2 separate regions of the Homo sapiens genome follow, and region 1 is linked to region 2. The links come from fine-mapping of genetic effects on gene expression. Tissue or cell type: whole blood. Region 2 holds a variant in brackets; the other region holds the start of a gene. All regions are shown on one strand. Distances are between the middles of the regions.

Region 1 (11,193 bases), 750 kb after region 2:
ACGGAAACAGCTTGGACACCTATGTTCCCAGCTGAGCCAGGCAGCTGAGGTCAGCAGGCATAGAGTGCTCCAGGTCTTTTTTTTTTTTTAAGACAGGATTTCACTCTGTCATCCAGGCTGGAGTGCAGTGATGTGATCTCAGCTCACTGCAACCTCCACATCCCAGGTTCAAGCGATTCTCCTGCCTCAGACTCCCAAGTAGCTGGGATTACAGGCGCCCTTCACCGCGCCTGGCTAATTTTTGTATTTTTAGTAGAGACAGGATTTCACCATGTTGGCCAGGCTGGTCTCGAACTCCTGACCTCAGGTGATCCACCAGTCTCGACTTCCCAAAGTGCTGGGATTACAGGCGTGAGCCACTGCGCCCAGCCTGCTTCAGGTCTATTTGCTTTGGGTCACATTTCTTCTCTCAGGTACAAAACAGCCGTCGGGGATCTTTTTCCTACTGAAAAGGGAAGGTGTCTGCTTGGAGTCCTCCCTTAACTGACTTCAGGAGGAAGGAAAGATCAGGAACCATGTCACTGGCTCTCCTAGCCTGAAGTGAGAGACAGCAAACATGGAGCACTGAAAGATGGAGCTTACCTTGCAGGGAAGAAATTGAACCTCCTGGGGCCGGGCGCAGTGGCTCACGCTTGTAATCCCAGCACTTTGGGAGGCCAAGGTGGGCGGATCACTTGCGGCCAGGAGTTCGAGAACAGCCTTAGCAACATGGTGAAATTCCATCTCTACTAAAAATACAAAAATTAGCTGGACGTGGTGGTGTGCGCCTGTAAAATCCCAGGTACTCGGGAGGCTGGGGCAGGAGAATCGCTTGAACCCAGGAGGCAGAGGCTGCAGTGAGCCAAGGTTGTGCCACTGCATGCCAGCCTGGGTGACAGTGAAATTCTGTTTCAAAAAAGAGAAAATTGGCTGGGCGCAGTGGCTCATGCCTGTAATCCCAGCACTGTGGAAGGCCGAGGTGGGCAGATCACCTGAGGTCAGGAGTTCAAGACCAGCCTGGCCAACATGGTGAAACCCCGTCTCTACTGAAAATACAAAAATTAGCCAGGTGGGATGATGTGCACCTGTAGTCCCAGCTACTCAGGAGGCTGAGGCAGGAGAATCACTTGAACCCCAATTGCTTGTTGTTTTGACACAGAGTCTCACTCTGTCACCAGGCTGGTGTGCAGTAGTGTCATCTTGGCTCACTGCAGCCTCCACCTGCTGGGTTCAAGTGATTCTCCTGCCTCAGCCTACCAAGTAGCTGGGACTATAGGCACCTGCCACCACGTCCAGCTAATTTTTGTATTTTTAGTAGAGACAGGGTTTCACTATGTTGGCCAGGATGGTCTCGATCTCTTGACCTTGTGATCCACCTGCCTCGGCCTCCCAAAGTGCTGGGATTACAGGCGTGAGCCACCGTTCCTGGCTGATTATTTTCATGCAACACACTTCCCTGTCCTGGCACGGTTGATGGCATTTATTGGGTGTTTGACCTGAAGAGTGACAACCGACATTTGCACACTAGACCACTGCCAATGCATGCTTTCCGTTTTTTAAAATTGTATTATTTTTATTTTCCTTTTTATTCTATTCAGAGAATGCAAGCATTTCTAGGGAAGGACTCTTGAGAACGTGCTCTATTAAAATGAAGGGCAGCATCATCGATGCTCACTGCAGCATTAATCTTGGTGTTTCTCCCTAGTCTGCTGCTCCTCCCCAGAACAGAATCCAAATCTTTTCCATCATCTCCAGGAGGAGACAAACTTCCTGCAGCCCCACAGCTGCCGTCTGGGAGCAGCTCTAAGTCTGTCTTATTCCACTCCCTTTCAAGGCACCTGCTACTGGCCCACCAGCTTTTCTTCTCAGGCGCAAAGGATCAATAATCAAAATGGCACTGGACTTCTCTACTAGCAACTCTGGAAGCTAGAAGACAATGAAACTGTTAGTTGCACCACGGCACTCCAGCCTAGGAGACAGAGTGAGACTCTGTCTTGGAAAAAAAAAAAGTGTCTTTAACATTCTGAGGGGAAACAATTGCCAATCTATAATCTATAGCTGAGACAGGGCTGGGCACAGTGGCTCACACCTGTAATCCCAGCACTTTGGGAGGCCGAGGCAGGTGGATCACGGGGTCAGGAGTTCAAGACCAGCCTGGTCAACATGGCAAAATCCCATCTCTACTAAAAATACAAAAATTAGCTGGGTGTGGTGGCAGGCACCTGTAATCCCAGCTATTCAGGAGGGTGAGGCAGGAGAATTACTTGAACCTGGGAGGTGGAGGTTGCACTGAGCTGAGATTGCACCACTGCACTCCAGTCTGGGCAACAGAGCAAGACTCTGTAAAAAAAAAAAAAGGAAAAGCTGAGACAGGAAGATCACTTGAACCCAGGAGTTCAAGGCTGCAGTGAGCCATGATGGCACGACTGCACTCCAGCCTGGGTAACAGAGCAAGATCTTGACTCAAAAAATAAGAAAGAGACAGACATGGTGTGAGAACAGGGATTAGTATGAGGATAACAAAGGCAAATCCCGGAAGGACGGCGGTGGAGGGGGGGGTCCCAGGTTGACAGTGGGCAGCAGCTCTGACAGCAGCCTGCCCAGTGTGGGTCTGCAGGGAGGAAGCCCCTGAAGAAACGCCCCTGGGAAACAGTGAAGCAAATACCTTCCTGACCAGATTGGCTAGGTGGAAAGTTGAGCTGGGAGGTATTTATAGCTCCAAAGGAGGATGTGGGAAGGCTTACTAAAAGATTCTAGCTGGGGCCGGGCATGCTGGCTTATGCCTGTAATCCCCGCACTTTGGGAGGCCAAAGCAGGTGGATCACTTGAGGTCAGGAGTTCGAGACCAGCCTGGCCAACATGGTGATACCCTGTCTCTACTAAAAATACAAAAATTAGCCATGTGTGGTAGCTTGTGCCTGTAATCCCAGCTACTCAGGAGGCCGAGACAGGAGAATCACTTGAACCTGGGAGGTGGCGGTTGTGGTGAGCCGAGATCAAGCCATTGTACTCCCCCCGGGAAACGAGTGAAACTCCATCTAAAAAAAAAAGATTCTAGCCCAGGCCGGGCATGCTGGCTTACGCCTGTAATCCAAGCACTTTGGGAGGCTGAGGCGGGTGGATGACTTGAGGTCAGGTGTTTGAGACCAGCCTGGCCAACATGGTGAAACCCCGTCTCTACTAAAAATACAAAAATTAGCCAGGCGTGGTGGCACATACCTGTAGTTCCCAGCTACTCGGGAGGCTAAGGGAGGAGAGTCACTTGAGCCTGGGAGGCAGAGGTTGCAGTGAGCTGAGATCACGCCACTGCACTCCAGCCTGGGTGACAGAGCAAGACTCCATCTCTAAATAAATAAATAAATAAAATAGCTGGGTGCAGTGGCTCATGCCTGTTAATCCTAGCACTTTGGGAGGCTGGGGTGGGAGGATTGCTTGAGGCCAGGAGTTCAAGACAAGGCTGGGCAACATAGGGAGACCTCGTCTCAACAAAAAAAATTAGCCTGGTGTGGTGGTGCATCCCTGTAGTCCTAGCTACTTGGGAGGCTGAGATGGGAGGATCACCTGAGCCTGGGAAGTTGAGGCTGCAGTGAGCTGTGATTGTGCCACTGCACTCTAGCCTGGGCAATGGGAGTGAGACCCTGTCTCAAAAACAAACCACAAAAAGCTCAGTGGGAGGAACTGTGTGTGGACTGGGTGGGACCCCTCTCTGGTGGCACAGGTGAGCAACGAGCCTAGGGGAGGGGAGCAGAGCCTGCAAGGTGTCAGAGAAGGGGCCAAGAGGAAGGTGAACCGAGGTGTTTCTCCCTGGACAGCATGGCAGAAGTGTCCAGTGCTGCCCAGAGGCCAAATATGATGAGGGTTTAGTGACGTGGACATTGCTGGTGACGTCACGGGGAGTTGTCTGGCTGCAGTGAGGCCAGGTCAGAGAGGAGAAGGAGGGATGGGCAGATGGGGATATGGCAAAGGAAGTTTGGCTGTCAAGGGCAGGAGAGAGAAGTGGGTAGCTCTTTTATGTTTTACAGACAGTCTTTTTTTTTTTTTTTTTTTTGAGACGGAGTCTCACACTGTCGCCAGGCTGGAGTGCAGTGGCGTGATCTCGGCTCACTGCAACCTCTGCCTCCTGGGTTCAAGTGATTTTCCTGCCTCAGCCTCCTGAGTAGCTGGGACTACAGCATGCGCCACCACGCCAAACTATATATATATATATATATATATATTTTTTTTTGTATTTTTATTAGAGACAGGGTTTCACCATGTCGGCAAGGATGGTCTCTATCTCTTGACCTCATGATCTGCCCACCTTAGCCTCCCAAAATGCTAGGATTACAGGCGTGAGCCACCGTGCCCGGCCAGCAGACAGTCTTGCTCTGTCGCCAAGGCTGGAGTGCAGTGGCATGATCATGCCTCACTGCAGCCTCCAAAGCCAGGGCTCTCACGATTCTCCTGCCTTGGCCTCCCAAAGTGCTGGGATTACAAGCATAAGCCACTGCGCCTGGCCCGGGTAGCATGTTTTTAAGATGGGAGAGCCCTGAGGATGTGTAAATCCTGTCAGAAAGAAGCCAGTGGAGGGAGAGGATAAAGACCTGAGGAGGGAGGGGCTCCTCAGGGCATGAGGGTTTGCAGGAGGCTAGAAGAGGCAGGTGCACACCTGCTCTGATCTTAAACTCCTGCCCATATCCTCCTCACCTTATCTGCTCGTCCTTATCCTGCCTAGCAGGCTGTCATCTCCACTTCACAGACGCAAGGCAGTCATTTGCCTGCAGTTACCTGGCTGCAAAAGGTCCCATGACCCTAGATGACTCTGTCTCCAAAGCCAGGCTCTTGCTGCACTTTTTCTAGCCTGGGGCAGAAGCCACCAGAGTGCAGGCTTTTCAGGCAAGGGCCAGAAAGGAAGCCTGAAACTCCAGTGCCTGTGGGGGCCAGAGAGATTCCAAAAACAGGACAAGGTGGCCACCTGTGCCACAGCAGTGTGAGCCCAGGGACAGGAGGAAGGGAGGGGGCTGTGAACCCTGAGGGCTCTTGTCCCCCACCAGGGGGGCATTCCTGCTGCACCCCAGGAGCACCTCCCAGATTCAAGCGATTCTCCTGCCTCAGCCTCCAGAGTAGCTGGCGTTACAGGCATGTGCCACCATGCCCGGCCAATTTTGTATCTTTAGTAGAGATGGAGTTTCTCCATGTTGGCCAGGCTGGTCTCCAACTCCAGACCTCAGGTGATCTGCCCGCCTCGGCCTCCCAAAGTGCTGGGATTATAGGCGTGAGCCACCGCGCCCAGCATGTTTGCTTGTTTTTAGATGGAGACAGGGTCTCACTCTATCACCCAGGCTGGGGTGCAGTGGCGCGATCATAGTTCACTGCAGCCTCGACCTCCTCCCGGGCTCAAGTGGTCCACCCACCTTGGCCTCCAAAGTAGTTGGGATTACAGGCTACTTTTCAGTAGCCCAGCTAATTTTTTAAAAACCTCTTTTGTAGAGATGGGGTCTTGCTATGTTGGCTAGGCTGGTCTCAAACTACCAGCCTCAAGTGATCCTCCCGAAATGCTGGGTTTACAGGCGTGAAGTACCATGCCCTGCCCCCAGATCTTTGGTTTTTTCTAAAGAATTTGAGCATCCCAATTTGAATTTGAATTCTCCAGGTTAGAGAGGTTTGTGCACCGAGAACAGGAAAGTTAGGTGGTGCAACATTAAGACGGGGTTAGGGAAGGCCTCCCTTGGAGAAGACCCCTGACCCAGGCAGGAATCCACTTGCCAAGTAGGGAAAGAGGAGAGGAGAGGGTGAGGGAGGTGGGAGGCCTGACCACCAGCCTTGTGGTCAGCGAAAGGCCGCAGGGGCGCTGGGCGGGAGGATTCCAGCTCTGCCAGTTCTCCACGGTGGCCTCATTTGATCTATGCAGGTCACAGTCCCTGATCGGGGGAGGGAGGCACACACTCCCTACTGGCCTGCCCTCCCCAGCCCCGGGGTCTAGGAGGAGGGCTCCACGGTGCGGACCGGGGTGGCCTCTCCAGGGCCCGCTCGGGCCGGGCCCGGATGGCGCCTACTCCCTCTCCGAGTGCCATCGAATTGTGTGCTAATTAGCCACAATTTGCACCGCGGCAGGGGCGCCCCGAGGCCACGCCTGCCCTCTAGGGGGTGGCAGGGATCGGGTTGGGTACCCCCCACCCAGACACCCAGGCAGTGACAGTCGCCAACCCCGTGGCGCGAGGACACGCGCAGCAGGGATGCGGCACAGCGCGCGCTGCGCTCGGCACCGGCCAGCCCGGGACGCCCCAGGGGCCGCCGCATCGTGTCCCCCGGGCCGGGTGAGTGGCCGGGCCGGGAATGGTTAAGCCCACCGAGCTGCGGCTGCCTAGAGCGGCGGCGGCGACGGCGGCGGCGGCGGCGGGGGCCGGGGCGCGGGGGCGCGGCGGGCGGGCAGGGGCGGGGGACAGGATGCGGATGCCGGGGGGACTTCCTGTGCCGGCCCCCGCGCCCCCGCCCCCGGCCCGGCCAGCGGCCCGCACGGACGCACTCCCGGGCGGGCGGGCGAGCCCAGGGGGACCCGGCCTTGCCGCGGCGCCCGCCCCGCCCCCGCCCCGGCCCCCGCGCGGCCCGGCCCAGGCCGCCCGCAGGCTCCGGGCACCTGTAGCCCCCGAGGACCCGCGTCGCCTGGCCGCCGCCGACCCCAGGCGGGGCCACCCCGTGGTGCCGACCCCGGGCGCCGGCCTGGATCCCGCTGCCCGCGATGGTCCCGGGGGGCCGGCCCTGAGCCCCGCGCGGGATTCGGGGCCCTGCCTCCCGCCCCAGCCCCCGCCGGAGAGTCTCCACCAACTTCTGCTCGGCCGCTCCTCTCAGCCCCTTCCCTTGGCCCAGGGCGACCTCGGCAGCCCAGAGGGCGTGGACCCTCCGGAGTGCCCAGAAAGCCCCCGGGGTGGCCCTGCGCCTCCTGGCTCTTTCTGGATGGAGGCGCCTCCGGAAGGAGCCGGCTGCACGCCGTGGCCTTCACCTCGCAGCCTCTGCTGACCACACCTCCCTAGCGCAGAGGCTGCCCGGGAGCAGGAAATGCTCCACCAGGTGAGGCCCAGGGGGTCGTTGGCGCTGGGCAACCGGGGACGCGTCCCTTGAGAGAGTTTGGACTGGATGGCACGAGTCGGCCTGTTTAGGGGAGAGGGGCCAGCTCTGCACGGGCCAGGGTGGACTCTCAGGAGCGCCTGGGCACAGGGCCAGGCCGTGGGTGACAGTGCTCTGGACACCTGCCTTGCCCGGGAGCTGGGGTGGCAGCTGACACACGTGGCCTGCTGGCGGCCTTCTCAGAGCAGGCCAGGAAGGCAATAGAATGGAAGGGCGCCAGGCGCAGTGGCTCACTCCTATAATCCCAACACTTTAGGAGGCCGAGGCAGGAGGATCGCCTGAGGCCAGGAGTTCGAGACCAGCCTTGGGCAACATCATCTACAATATAAAAAAACATAAAAATTAGCTGGGGGTGATGGCACGCACCTGTAGCCCCAGCTACTCAGGAGGCGGAGGCAGGAGAATCGCTTGAACTGGGGAGACGGAGGTTGCAGTGAGTCCAGATCGCACCACTGCACTCCAGCCTGGGTGACAGAGTGAGAATCCGTATCAAGAAAAAAAAAAAAAAGTATTTAATAAAAAAAGAATTGAAGGAGGCAGGGAGGATGTTGATGGACAGTCTCTCTTTGGCCCCAGAGCTCCCCGCCCTGAATGTCCCTTTGGTGACTCTAGCTTTCCTCCCTTGTGAAGGGCTGATACCCACAGTTGTGTCTCTGTGGGGCTACCCCACTCTCCATCCCGCTGTGAAAAGTCAGGAGAGGCAGTCCTGCCTCTATGCAGGTGACAGCCTCTGGTGCTGTCTGCCAACTCCCCAGTCCTGAGCCTCCAGGCCGCCGGCACTCCCCGTTCCCCGTTGCGGGGGACAGTCCTATAGTTGCAGCAGGTATGGAGCTGACCGCTCTGGGTGGCCCGAGGCAGAGGTGGAGGGCCTTTGGGGGCCTGTGGGCACCTGGCGGGGGTCAAAGCACTCCAGCCTGGCTAAACTGCTTCCTTCCTTTCAGCACAGCCGACTCCCGGGAATCGGGGTCTGACCGCCAGGATGGAAGTGGGGCCAGCCACCGAGACCTTCGTGCTGGAACTTCAATGTCTTGAGGATGGGGGCCCAGGGCCTGACACCCTCTCAGGTGAGGGCCTCGGGGGATCCCTTGACAGAGCCTCATGCCTGCCTGCTGTGGCAGAAAGAGGCTCAAGGGTGGCGGGCAGCCTGCACAGACTCACACCAGCCAACCTCAGCTGCATTGAGTAACACCAGCAGCTCTCCCTTGAGATTTTCCAAGGTGGCTGTGTCAGGCAGGCTGAGGCCAGGCTGGTGAGGGGCTCCCCGCTCCCCACATGGGTGCTGACTGGACTTAACACTCACACGCGCTGCTGGCTGGAACTCATTGCTGTGTTTCCTGGCAGCCAGAGGGCCTCCACCATCCTCCCACCTGGCCCCAGCTCCTGAGTCAATTTCCACTCAATTTCCCGGATCCGATTCAGGTACTAATAGGCTCTCTTCCTCTGCCCCTCCTGCCCCAGATGTTGGCTCCCTGGCTTCTTCTCCCCTGTGGCCTCGTAACCTTTTCCACTTTAGCTTGACCTCTGCTTGCATCTGTTTTTCTCTACCTGATGCCCAGGGGCAGATGTGGTACTGCAGAACCTTCCAAGACCTCTTCCTCTGGGACCCACTCTGGGCAAACCTTCTCTGGTGGCCACACTCATGAGAGCCAGTTTCCATTCTGTGCTTTAAGGGTGCTGAGTGAGGGCCTGGGGCAGGGCGGGACAGAGCTTGAAAAGGACCAAGGGAATTGGAGGGGGTGGGATGGGGATGTGTGGAGTCAAGAAGGACCGTTCTGACCGAGCATGATGGCTCATTCCTGTAATCCCAGCACTTTGGGAGGCCGAGGCGGGCAGATCAGTTGAGGCCAGGAGTTTGAGACCAGCCTGGCCAACATGGTGAAACACTGTCTTTACTACAAATACAAAAATGAGCTGGGTGTGGTGGGCACCTGTAATCTCAGCTACTCGGGAGGCTGAGGCAGAAGAATCACTTGAACCCAGGAGGCAGAGGTTGCAGTGAGCCAGGATCATGCCACTGCACTCCAGCCTTGGTGACAGAGTGAGAGTCCGTCTCAAAAAAAAGAAGAAGAGGAAAAGAAGACCCTTCTGACTTGTAAATTTACCTGACAAAACTTTGGGAGGGTATACACGTCAGACAACACTGGACTAGATGTTCACTAAAATGCCTTTGTTAAAAATGCTGAGGTCAGGCACAATGGCTCACACCTGTAATCCCAGCACTTTGGGAAACCGAGGCAGGTGGATCGCTTGAGCTCAGGAGTTCGAGACCAGCCTGTGAAACATGGCAAAACCCCATCTCTACAAAAAGTTTAAAAAATTAGCTAGGCGTGGTGTTGTGTACCTATAGTCCCAGCCACTTGAGAGGCTGAGATGGGAGGATCGCTTGAGCTTGAGAGGTTGAGGCTACAGTGAGCTGAGATTGCGCCACTACACTCCAGCCTGGGTGACAAGAGTGAGATCCTGTTTAAAACAAACAAACAAACAAAAACTGAAATTGCTGCCCCAGGGAGTCAGAGTGGCCTGTGGTCAAGACTGTGCCAGAAAAGAGGAGACTCAACACAGAGGCATGATCTGTCTCATTCCTCCCAGAAGAGGTGGGAGAAAGGAGGGTCCATGAGACATTGGACTTGCTGGGGGGACAGTTTTCACCCTGTCTTCTACCATGTGCTTCCCCCCAGCCAATGTCAGTGTCTATGAAAAGCACGCTCACGGATCTGTTAGCCTAACCAAAGGTTATTAGGAATATTTTACTAGAGGAAATTATATGCATACAGATCTCCCTTGGTGGATTTTTTTTTTTTTTTTTTTTTTTTTGAGACAGAGTCTCACTCTGTTGCCCAGGCTGGATTGCGGTGGCTCAATCTTGACTCACTGCAACCTCCACCTCCTGGGTTCAAGCAGTTCTCCTGCTGCAGCCTCCCGAGTAGCTGGGACTATAGGTGCCTGCCACCATGCCCGGCTAATTTTTGTATTTTTAGTAGAGACAGGGTTTCACTATGTCCCTTGGGTTGTTGTTTTTGTTTGTTTGTTTGTTTGTTTGTTTTTTTGATAAGGAGTCTTGCTCTGTCGCTGGGCTGGAGTGCACTGGCGTGATCTCAGCTCACTGCAACCTCTGCCTTTCAGGTTCAAGTGATTCCCCAGCCTCAGCCTCCCGAGTAGATGGGACTACAGGCGCACACCACCACGCCCGACTAATTTTTTGTATTTTAGTAGAGATAGGATTTCGTCATGTTGGCCAGGATGGTCTCAATCTCCTGACCTCGTGATCCATCTGCCTCGGCCTCCCAAAGTGCTGGGATTATAGGCGTGAGCCACCGCGCCCGGCCATCCCTTGGTTTTATTAAATCAATATATTCTTGGAAAAATGGCCAGAAAGCAAACTTTTATAAATCAAAGCATTGTCTTCCATTACAAAATGGAAAACATATGATGTTATAGGGAGAAGAGATGTTGAAATCAGAGTTGGGAACGGAGAAAGCCTCCTCAAGTCACATGTAGAAAGAAGGATTGGGATTTTCCAGTAGCACAATAGTAATACTCAAAACGAGAATCTCATGGTGTACACGGTGCGGAAAGAGAAGCGTAGTAACGGAGTGGTGCTGTTTTTGCAGGGCCTCCCAGGTTTATGCCTCCCAAAGTGTTGCGATTACAAGCATGAGCCACCACGCCCAGCCTAGTTAGTCCTTTGTATTCCTGAATGACAATCTCAAACAGTCCCAGTCTCCTTGGTATTTTTTTGTTACTTTGCAAACCAATCCTAACCTTCAGAGAGAGGGAATTTTCAAGCACCTACCAGGCTCCAGGTACTATGCCAGGGCTCTCCTTGTTGTACTGTTTAAGCAGATGGTGTGGGTATCACTGAGCTATTTTGTAGACAGGACTGTGAGCCTGCAGGAGGTTGTATACCTGCCGACTGGTAGAGTTAGGTTCTGAACTGAGAACTTCCTGTCTGAAACCTAGTGGTCTCTCTGACACTTTGGTGATTTTGGGAAACTACTTGTGGTAACACCTCCGGGCAGCTTTATATAAATTCTTTATTATTTACAGAGAAGGATAATTTCATTTATTTAAGGTGTGGCTGTAAGGTCGGAGTTCAGCATGGGGTTGATG
Region 2 (9,917 bases):
AGCGAGAGATGCCAGCTCTCTCATTATGTGGGGTTTAGTTGCAATTTCTCCTTAATTAACTCACTTAAGTCTTCATTAAATGTTGCCTCCAGCTCATCCGTAAGTTGAGACGGAGCCGCTCACATTTCTTGTTCATGAAAAAATCAGCGTCCTATACCATTTTGTTTCTTTTCTGCTATAGCATTTCACACATGCCTAAGCAGTTTGGGGCTCTCCGTATGTGTGTGTGTGTATATATATATGCATATATATATATATATCATTAGGTATATATACGTGTATATATACGTATATATATATTACGTATATATGCGTGTATATATACGTGTATGTATATTATTACGTATATATACGTGTATATATACGTGTATATATATATTACGTATATATACGTGTATATATACGTGTGTATATATATTACGTATATATACGTGTATATATACGTGTGTATATATATTACGTATATATACGTGTATATATACGTGTGTATATATATTACGTATATATACGTGTATATATACGTGTGTATATATATTACGTATATATACGTGTATATATACGTGTGTATATATTATTACGTATATATACGTGTATATATACGTGTATATATTCACGTATATATACACATATATACGTATATATATATTCGTATATATACGTGTATATATACATATATATACACACATACACACATACATATATATACACACACACATATATACACATACATATACATATACATATATATATTTATTTATTTATTGTTGTTCCTGCTGAAAAAGTGAAACATTGATTTAGTGACCACAGAGTTGGCCAGAGAGCAAAAACAGCAAGAACAGGTTTTGGGTGAAAACTGCTGGAGAACTTCTTGGCAAGAAGTCCTCAAATGGGGTAGCCTGGAGGTGGCTCGCTAATGCTGACACCAAATGTGTGTGCCACAGGTGGTGGTGGTTATAGTTGTTGCTGGTTTTTAGCAGGATGGGAGGGAGATGTGCTTTAAGAATCCCAGTTCTGGCCGAGTGCAGTGCGGTGGCTCACGCCTGTAATCCCAGCACTTTGAGAGGCTGAAGTAGGCAGATCACCTGAGGTCAGGAGTTCGAGACCAGCCTGGCCAACACGGTGAAACCCCATCTCTACTAAAAATACAAAATTAGCCGGGCTTGGTGCTGCGTGCCTGTAATCCCAGCTACTTGGGAGGCTGAGGCAAGAAAATGGCTTGAACCCAGGAGGCGGAGGTTGAAGTGAGCTGAGATCGCACCATTGCACTCCAGCCTGGGCAACAAGAACGAAATTCTGTCTTAAAAAAAAAAAAAGAATCCCAGTTCTTGGGGAGGAAGTTGGAATAGAACCAGTTGGGTCATGTGATAGACACTTCCACTGTGTTTTCCAAAGGAAATTTACATTCAGGAAGGAAAACATGTTGAAGAGCGGAAGGAGAGCCAAGAGAGTTGCTCAGTACTTGGGTAATGCATTTCTTATTCAGAGGAAAGTGAGTTTAGCAGGGAAGGAGGGTTCCAGTTCCTCTCTCACCAGTGCTTGGCATGGGTCAGCCCTCCTCATTTTGGACATTTTCATTAATGTGTATTGGCATCTCATTGTGGTTTTATTTATTTATTTATTTATAATTTGTTGTTGTTGTTAGAGACAGGGTCTCACTATGTTGCCCAGGCTGGTCTCAAACCCCTGGGCTCAAGTGATCCTACCGCCTCGGCCTCCCAAAGCATTGAAATTGCAAGCATCAGCCACCACACTCGGCCTACTTTTTAATTTAAAAAAATTTTTTTAGAGACAGGGTCTTGCTATGTTACCCAGGCTAGAGTACAGTGGCTGTTCACAGGCACGAACATTGCACACTACAGCCTCAAACTCCTGAGCTCAAGTGATCCTCCTGCGTCAGCCTCCTGAGTGGGTGGAACTGCAGGCGTGTGCCCCTGGGCCCTCACAGTGGCTTTAATCTGCATTCTCTAATGATGAATAACGTTAAGCATCTTTTCATGTGCTCGTTTGCCATCCATACTGAAAGTTCGTTTTAAAGACAGGATCCATACACCAGCATGTTTGTATTGTGAAAGAAGGTAAATTCTCAGGACCCCAAACTCACTATGCCAAAGAGAAAGTCAAGCTTGGAAACTGAGTCATGCAATACTGCCTTCCCTTTTGTTCCCAAATGGAGAGCTGTATTTTCATAACCCCATGTTCTAGCCTCATGCATAAGCCAGGTGCCCACCAAGACAGAACGTTACGTATCTTCCCAGATGGCTCCCTCACAAGTTGCTCACAAAGTGAGCCCCTAATTCTTTCAGGATACATCTCCCCCTATAAACTAGCCCTAAAAGCAAGTTCTGTTAAATCTCACACTGACAATGTCGATTACCAGCTTATTTTCACATGGATAGGACAAGGACAAGATCGTAAATCATCCTTCCACCTACCCTGAGATAAATGCAGCATGGCCCTATTCCCCTACTCCCTCTTTTCATGTTTACTTTATGTTATGTAAAATGCAGATTTACTGAGCTCAAGATGAATGCAGCATAAACTCTTTACTCCCTCTTTTCACGTTTATCTTATGTAAAATGTGGATTCACTGGGCTTAGGATGAATGCATCACAGACTCTACTCCTTTTCAAGTTTACTTTATCTTGCGTAAAATGTAGATCTACTGAGCTCAAGATGAATGCATCATGGACTCCTCTACTCTTTTCACATGTTTATCCTATGTAAAATGTGGATTTACTGAGCTCAAGATGAATGCATCATGGACTCTTTACTCCCTCTTTTCATGTTTATCTTATGTAAAATGTAGATTTACTGGGCTTGAGATGAATGCAACATGGACTCCTCTACTCCCTCTTTTCATACGTTTATCTTATGTAAAATGTAGATTTACTGAGCTCAAGATGAATGCATCATGGACTCTTTACTCCTTTTTTCACATATTTACTTTACCTTATGTAAAATGTAGATTTCCTGAGCTGGAGAGGAATGCCTCATTGACATGTAAAATGTAGATTTATTGATCGCTAATCAGAGCCTTGGGAGAATGGGACCATTTGCCTCTCTGCCTACCCTCCCTTCCTTTATCCCTCCTGCTTGCTCTTTCCCCTTTAAATAGTGAAGTTCCCAAACCCTCTTTGGAAACTCACAGGTCACAGATGCTCCTGTGGCTGATGTTCCTCCCGGGCGTGTCCTCAAACTGCTGCATCAACCTCAGTCAATGGGGACTCATGACTCATTCCCTTTTTCGGTTAATATTATGTTAATGGGAAAGATCTATTAGGGAGAGAGAAATTGATGGCACAGGAGAGGGAAGAGGGAGTACGTGGAGTGACGTGCTTGAGAGGGTGGCAGGAATGGAATCCAGTTTAGATGGCTGAGGGGCTGGCTTTAGATAGGATGTGGATGGTTCATTTTTTTTTTTTTTTTCTCAAGATGGAGTCTTGCTCTGTCACCCAGGCTGGAGTGCAATGACATGATCTCAGCTCACTGCAACCTCCACCTCCTGGGTTCAAGCGATTCTCCTGCATCAGCCTTCCAGGTAGCTGGGATTACAGGTGCGCACCACCACGCCCAGCTAATTTTTTGTATTTTTAGTAGAGATGGGGTTTCACCATGTTGGCCATGCTGGTCTCAAACTCCTGACCTCATGATCTGCCTGACTCGGCGTCGCAAAGTGCTGGAATTACAGGCGTGAGCCACTGTACCCGGCCTGATGGTTCATGTTATAGCTAAGGCAGGAAGGCAGAGTGAGTGGATGCAGAGGCTGGGAGAGGGCCGATGTTGTCTAGGGAACCTGGGGACACTCTCCTCTGGTCGTTAGTATTTTCTCAGTTAAGGAGAAGGCAAGGTCATCTGCTGAGGATGAAGACATGTTGGGGTTTGAGAAGGAGATCAGGAATGCAAGAATGATCTGGGGAACAAGGGGGGCAAAGAGGGGGCCAGGTGCTGTGGCTCACACCTGAAATCCCGGCACTTTAGGAGGCTGAGGCAGGAGGGTCGCTTGAGCCCATGAGTGCAAGACCAGCCTGGGCAACATGATGAGATCCCGTCTCTACAAAAAATAAAGCATTAGCCAGGCATGGTGGTGCATGCCTGTGGTCCCAGCTCCTGGTTGGGGGGGATGCTATGGTAGGGGAAATCACTTGAGCCCAGGAGGTTGAGGCTGCGGTGAGCTGTGATCGCACCACTGCACTCCAGCCTGGGTGACAGGGGGAGACCTTGTCTCAAAAAAAAAAAAAAAGGAAGAATGACCTTCACGGTGTTCTAAAAAGCAGTGGCTTCCAGTTCAGAAGGGGTTTGCTGCCCTCTGTCTAATGAGTTGGGGTTCTCTTTTCTCCTCCACGTTCTAGGGTTTTGATGCCTCTTAGCGTCACCATCTCTCATTTGGGGAGCAATTATGAATCGTTAGTAAAAGCTCAACTTTTTTAAGATGCAAAACCAGCAAGAAAATTCAGCATGTCCTGGTTTTCTAGACGGCATCCTCAAAGACCACACCCAGGCACTTAATAATTAAGCCTTTTGGGCAAAGTTCTCATTAGAATAAATCAAATAGGCCGGGCACCGTGGCTCACACCTGTAATCCCAGCACTTTGGGAGG[C/T]CAAGCCAGGCGGATCACCTGAGGTTGGGAGTTTGAGACCAGCAACCCCATCTCTACTAAAAATACAAAATTAGCCGGGCGTGGTGGTGCGTGCCTGCAATCCCAGCTACTTGAGAAACTGAGGCAGGAGAATTGCTTGAACCCGGGAGGCGGAGGTTGCAGTGAGCCGACATCGCACCATTACACTCCAGCCTGGGCAACAAGAGTGAAACTCCCTCTCAAAAAAAAAAAGAACTAGGGAAATAGAGTGTGATTTCCTGGCAGGAATTTTGACTGGCATGAGACATTTGACTTGAAAGACCTGTGGAAGACAGCGGGCAGCAGCTGTAGTTTGATACCATCGGATATGACCTGGGATTCCCATTAACCAAATTTGTTGTCATCATGACCCAGTCACCCGATCCAGTCACCCTGAGCCCCACTGCAACTGCTTCAGGTGTTTCCTGGCCAGCGTCGGGGCCGACGAGTAGTGTGATTTGCAAATGCCTGCATTATTCATGTTTTTGATCTATTCTAATGAGAACTTTGCCCAAAAGGCTAAATTATTAAGCGCCTGGGTGTGGTCTTTGAGGATGCCGTCTAGAAAACCAGGACATGCTGAATTTTCTTCCTGGTTTTGCTTCTTAAAAAAGTTGAGCTTTTACTAACGATTCATAATTGCTCCCCAAATGAGAGATGGTGACGCTAAGAGGCATCAAAACCCTAGAAAGTGGAGGAGAAAGAGAACCCCAACTCATTAGACAGAGGGCAGCAAACCGCTTCTGAACTGGAAGCCACTGCTTTTTAGAACACCGTGAAGGTCATTTATGGTGGCCATCCCATTCCCATAGCTTGTCAGCCAAGGTGTTTTTTTATTAGGCTGGTGCAAAAGTTATAATTGCAAAATTATATTACAGTTGCAATAATGCAAAAACCACAATAACTTTTGCACCAACCTAATTAATGAACATGAATCACCTCTAGCGATGGGAGAACACTAAATTCAGGAAATGAAACATGCTCAGCTGCGACCTGGAAGTCCCAGAGAACTGTCCTGGGCTTGGGCAACACATACCCTGTGCATTTAGAGACAGTGAGTTTAACTGTGCATTTAATACATAGGTAACAACAATACTGAAATCTTTTGTTCTTTTATTCATTTTCGGAAAAGAAAATGCATATACACATCTAGATGTAGGTCAAATATGCCGCACTCTTGATAATAACAGAGTTGTCTTCATTTGGATAAAGATTTTAATCACTTCAGTCCCATAATTTCAGGGCAGTTTAAGGGCTATTCATGAATAGCATAGGTATTTGTACAAAAGTCCAGTATTTTTCTGCTGGGTGCACTGGCTCGTGCCTGCAATCCTAGTGTCTGGGGAGGCTGAAGGAGGAGGATTACTTGAGGCTAGGAGCTGAACACCAGCCTGGGCAACATAGCAAAACCCCAGTCTCTACAAAAAAAAAAAATTTAATTAGCTGGTTCTGGTGGTGTGTGCCTGTAGTCCCAGGTACTTTAGAGGTTGAGGTGAGAAGGAGCCATTGAGCCCAGGAGTTCAAGGTGACACTGAGCTATGAGTGTGCCACTGCACTCCAGCCTGGGCAACAGAGTGAGATGAAGGACAGAAGGAAGGAGTGGGGGGGAGAGGGAGGGAGGAAAGGAGGAAGGGAGGGAGGAAAGGAGGAAGAGAGGAAGGAAAGAAGGAAGGGGGGGAGAGAAGGAGGGAGGGGGAAGACAAGGAGGGAAGAAGGAAGGGAGGGAGGGAGGGAAGAAGAAAGAAAAGGAAGTTAGGAAAGGAGGGAGGGAGGGAAGGAAGGATGTTGAATTTCCTGCCTCCTTGATAGGATGGGAGGGATTGGAGTGAAAATTTCGTTGACTTATTATATTAAAAAACCAAATGTGTTGTTTGATTTTCTGACATCTGACCTGTGTACTGAGAATTTAAACTCACTCAACTCCCAGTAATAACTGCTAAAACCATTTGGGTGAATTTCTCTGTAGTCTTTTACTGATATGTGGTGGATACATATTGTGTCAATTTAGCAAAACTGGGACTGCATTTCCTAAATTTCCCCTCCCTGTCTAGTTCCAGTTTATTGTGAGCAAGAAGACATATCTGTGGAGGGTGGAGGTTGGCACTGGTTACCATGTAACCCGCTCCCACAATTGTGTAAGGTCCAGTCCCTATAACCGCCGTCCTGTGTCTATAAATATATATTTTCCAATTTACAAAATACATTTAACGTAGTGCCTGTTTCACTTTACAATATGTGGTGGATATTTTTCCATATCATTAAGTAGACTTGTAGACTATCCTTTTATTTTTTATGGCCCATCAATTAACAAATCCCTGCACATTGGACGTTGAGGTGATTTCCAATTGCTAAGAGAAGCAAAATCTTTGTGTCCATCCACAATAGTTTGTTTGTTCATTTTCCTTGCAGTTCTTTAAAAAAAATTCCTCCTTGCCTTCTGGCCTGCATTGTTTCTGATCAGAAGTCTGATGTCACTCGGTGCAGTGGCGTGCACCTGTAATCCCACCTACTCAGGAGGATCGCTTGGGCCCAGGAGTTCAAGACAAGCCTGGGCAACATAGCAAGACCCCATCTCAAAAAAAAAGAAGAGAAGTCTGATGTCAATCTTTTCTTTGTTCCTCTGAACATATTGTGTCTCTTTTTTCTGGCTGCCTTTATGACCTTCATCTTCTCTTTATCACTGGTTTTAAACAATTTTATAATAATGCGCCCTTTATACGTGTTGGCTCTTCCTCCTCCTCCTTTTTCCTCCTCTTATTTTTTCTGGAGGTTCATTGAGCTTCTTGAGCCTGCTTTCATCCAATGTGGAAAATTTTCTGCCATTATTTCTTCAAATATTTTTCTGGTCCCTCCTCTTTCTCCTTTTCTCTGAGACTCCAATTACATGTATATTAGGCCACTTGAAGTTGTCCAGTAGCTCACTGATGTCTGGTTTTATTTCTTCCAGAATTGTTTCTCTCTGTGTTTCAGCTTGTATCTTTTCTATTGTGATGTGGGGGTGTTTGGGAGGGGACTGGTTCTGTTTTGGGGGGTTGTTTTTTCTAAGATGGGGTCTTGCTATGTTGCCCAGGCTGGAGTGCAGTGGCACAATCTTGGTTCACTGCAGCCTTGACCTCCTGGGCCCAGGTGATCCTCCCCGGTAGCTGGGACCACCACACCTGGCTACTTTTTAAAATTTTTTTGTAGAGATGGGGTTCCACCATGTTGTCCAGGCTGGTCTCAAACTCCTGAGCTCTAGTGATCCACCCACCTCAGCCTCCCCAAGTTCTGGGATTACAGGAGTGAGCCACCGCACCCGGCATCTTTTCCATTGCTATGTTTTCAAACTCATTACTCTTTTTTTCTTCGGTGTCTAATTTGCTAATCCCATCCAGTGTATTTTTCTTCTCTAGCTTCACTGTGTTTTGTTGTCGCTATTGTTTTGTTTTGTTTTTTTGGAGACAGGGCCTACCAAGGCTGGAATGCAGTGGCAAGATCACAGCTCACTACAACCTCAACCACCTGGGCTCAAGCGATTCTCCTGCCTCAACCTCCTGAGTAGCTGGAGTCACAGGCATGCACCACCACACCCAGGAGAACTTTTTAATTTTTGTAGAGATGGGGGTCTCACTATGTTGCTCAGGCTGGTCTTGAACTCCTGGCCTCAAATGGTCTCCCACATTGGCCTCCCAAAGTGCTGGGATTACAGGTGTGAGCCACCGCGCCCGGCCACTCCCATCTTTATTTCAGCCTTTTCTTCCCCCAACAATGCTCTAGTGAGCTCACGAAGACACAGCCAGCCAAAGGTCTAAAGGGATTTTGCCATCAGTTTCACTGAGTAATTTAGAGCAAGTGTCTAAGAGTGAGGGGGAAAAAAGACATAGCCAGTAGTCTCTCAGATAATTTTAAGGAATTGTCCTCTCCTGCAGCATTTCAATAAGAAATGATGTAGCTTCTGTCTTCCTTTGAGGGTCAGTTAGAAGGCACTGGGAACGTGAAGTCTGACACCCATAACAGCTCTGGGCTACCCAGAAAGTCAGACCAGTACTCATGCTACTGAGTCCAGGCCGAGCACGGTGGCTGATGCCTATAATCCCAGCACTTTGGGAGGCCAAGTCAGGTGGATCACCTGAGGTCAGGAGTTCGAAACCAGCCTGGCTAACATGGTGAAACCCTGTGTCTACTAAAAATACAAAACTTAGCCAGGCATAGTGGTGTCCGCCTGTAATCCCAGCTACTTGGGAGGCTGAGATGGGAGAATTGCTTGTACCCGGGAGGCAGAGGTTGCAGTGAGCTGAGATCGCGCCATTGTACTCCAGCCTGGGCAACAGAGTGAGACTCTGTCTCAAAAACAAACAAAACAAAACAAAACAAAAAGGACTGAGTCCAAAGTTCCACATAGCTAGGCTGACTTCATACCATTGGTATTCTGAATACAGTACTGACAGAAAGCTTCAGGAATAAAAGAGAGAAGAGAGGAACTCAGGAAGCATGAGTGTTCCCCACGAGGGGGTGCCAGGCCCTCCTAGACACACCTGTGAACATACCCCTTCCCCAAGGCCATTGGCAGCTGGAGTCTTAAAATATTTCCTGCAGCTCTGGCTGGGCACGGTGGCTCATGGCTGTAATCCCAGCACTTTGGGAGGCCGAGGCAGGTGGATCACTTGAGGTCAGGAGGTCGAGACCAGCCTGACCAACATGGTGAAACCCTGTCTCTACTGAAAATACAAAAATTATCCAGGCATGGTGGTGTGTGCCTGTAGTCCCCGCTACTCAGGAGGGTGAGACAGAAGAATCACTTGAACCCAGGAGGTGGAGGTTGCAGTGAGCCGAGATGGCACCACTGCACTCCAGCCATGGCAACAGAGATTCCATCTAAAAAAGAAAATTTAAAAATTTAAAAAATATATTTCCTGCAGCACTGTATCCTCCCCTATGATCTCATTCCCACCTGCACCCTTCTCCAGTCCCCTCCTACCTGCTCCCACCTGCGTTACCCCAGAACAGCTTCTTCTGCACTACCCAGCAACAACTCACCGCCCTGCCCATAATCCGCACGTGCTTGCCCTGGCAGCCTCATCCTAACCTCTCGGAAGCACTCAACTTGCCGGGTCCATCCTTCCTTCTTGAAGCATTCATACCCTTGCTCCCGCCCCTGACATTGGCTGACCCAGGACAAGAGCACAGAGGCCCACGCGCCACGTGTGTGAATTGCAAGTGAAACTGACAAGCGGTTAAATACAGTATGTTTGCGCCATCCTCCAGCCTTGACAAGAGTATTCTCATAGCAACAAAACCATAGCTGTGACATCTTTGCTTTGTT

The links. PIP is the estimated chance that this variant, and not a neighbour inherited with it, causes the effect.
Region 1: it holds the start of ZNF853, and the variant in region 2 is the best candidate, but not a certain one, in a credible set for the expression of ZNF853 in whole blood (TOPMed, PIP 0.57).

The regions. Positions count from the first base shown.
Region 1 is chr7:6,609,161-6,620,353 of GRCh38, forward strand. ZNF853 (zinc finger protein 853) reads left to right here and starts at 6,450. Exons shown (of 3, transcript NM_017560.3): 1 at 6,450-7,026; 2 at 8,030-8,147. The coding sequence starts at 7,015. RefSeq lists enhancers at 4,580-5,333, 5,334-6,087.
Region 2 is chr7:5,860,122-5,870,038 of GRCh38, forward strand. It overlaps a transcript of OCM not described here. Among named protein-coding and RNA genes, the nearest start is that of OCM, 16 kb to the right of the region's middle. RefSeq lists a silencer at 8,977-9,271. The variant C/T (reference allele first, on the strand shown) is at 4,598.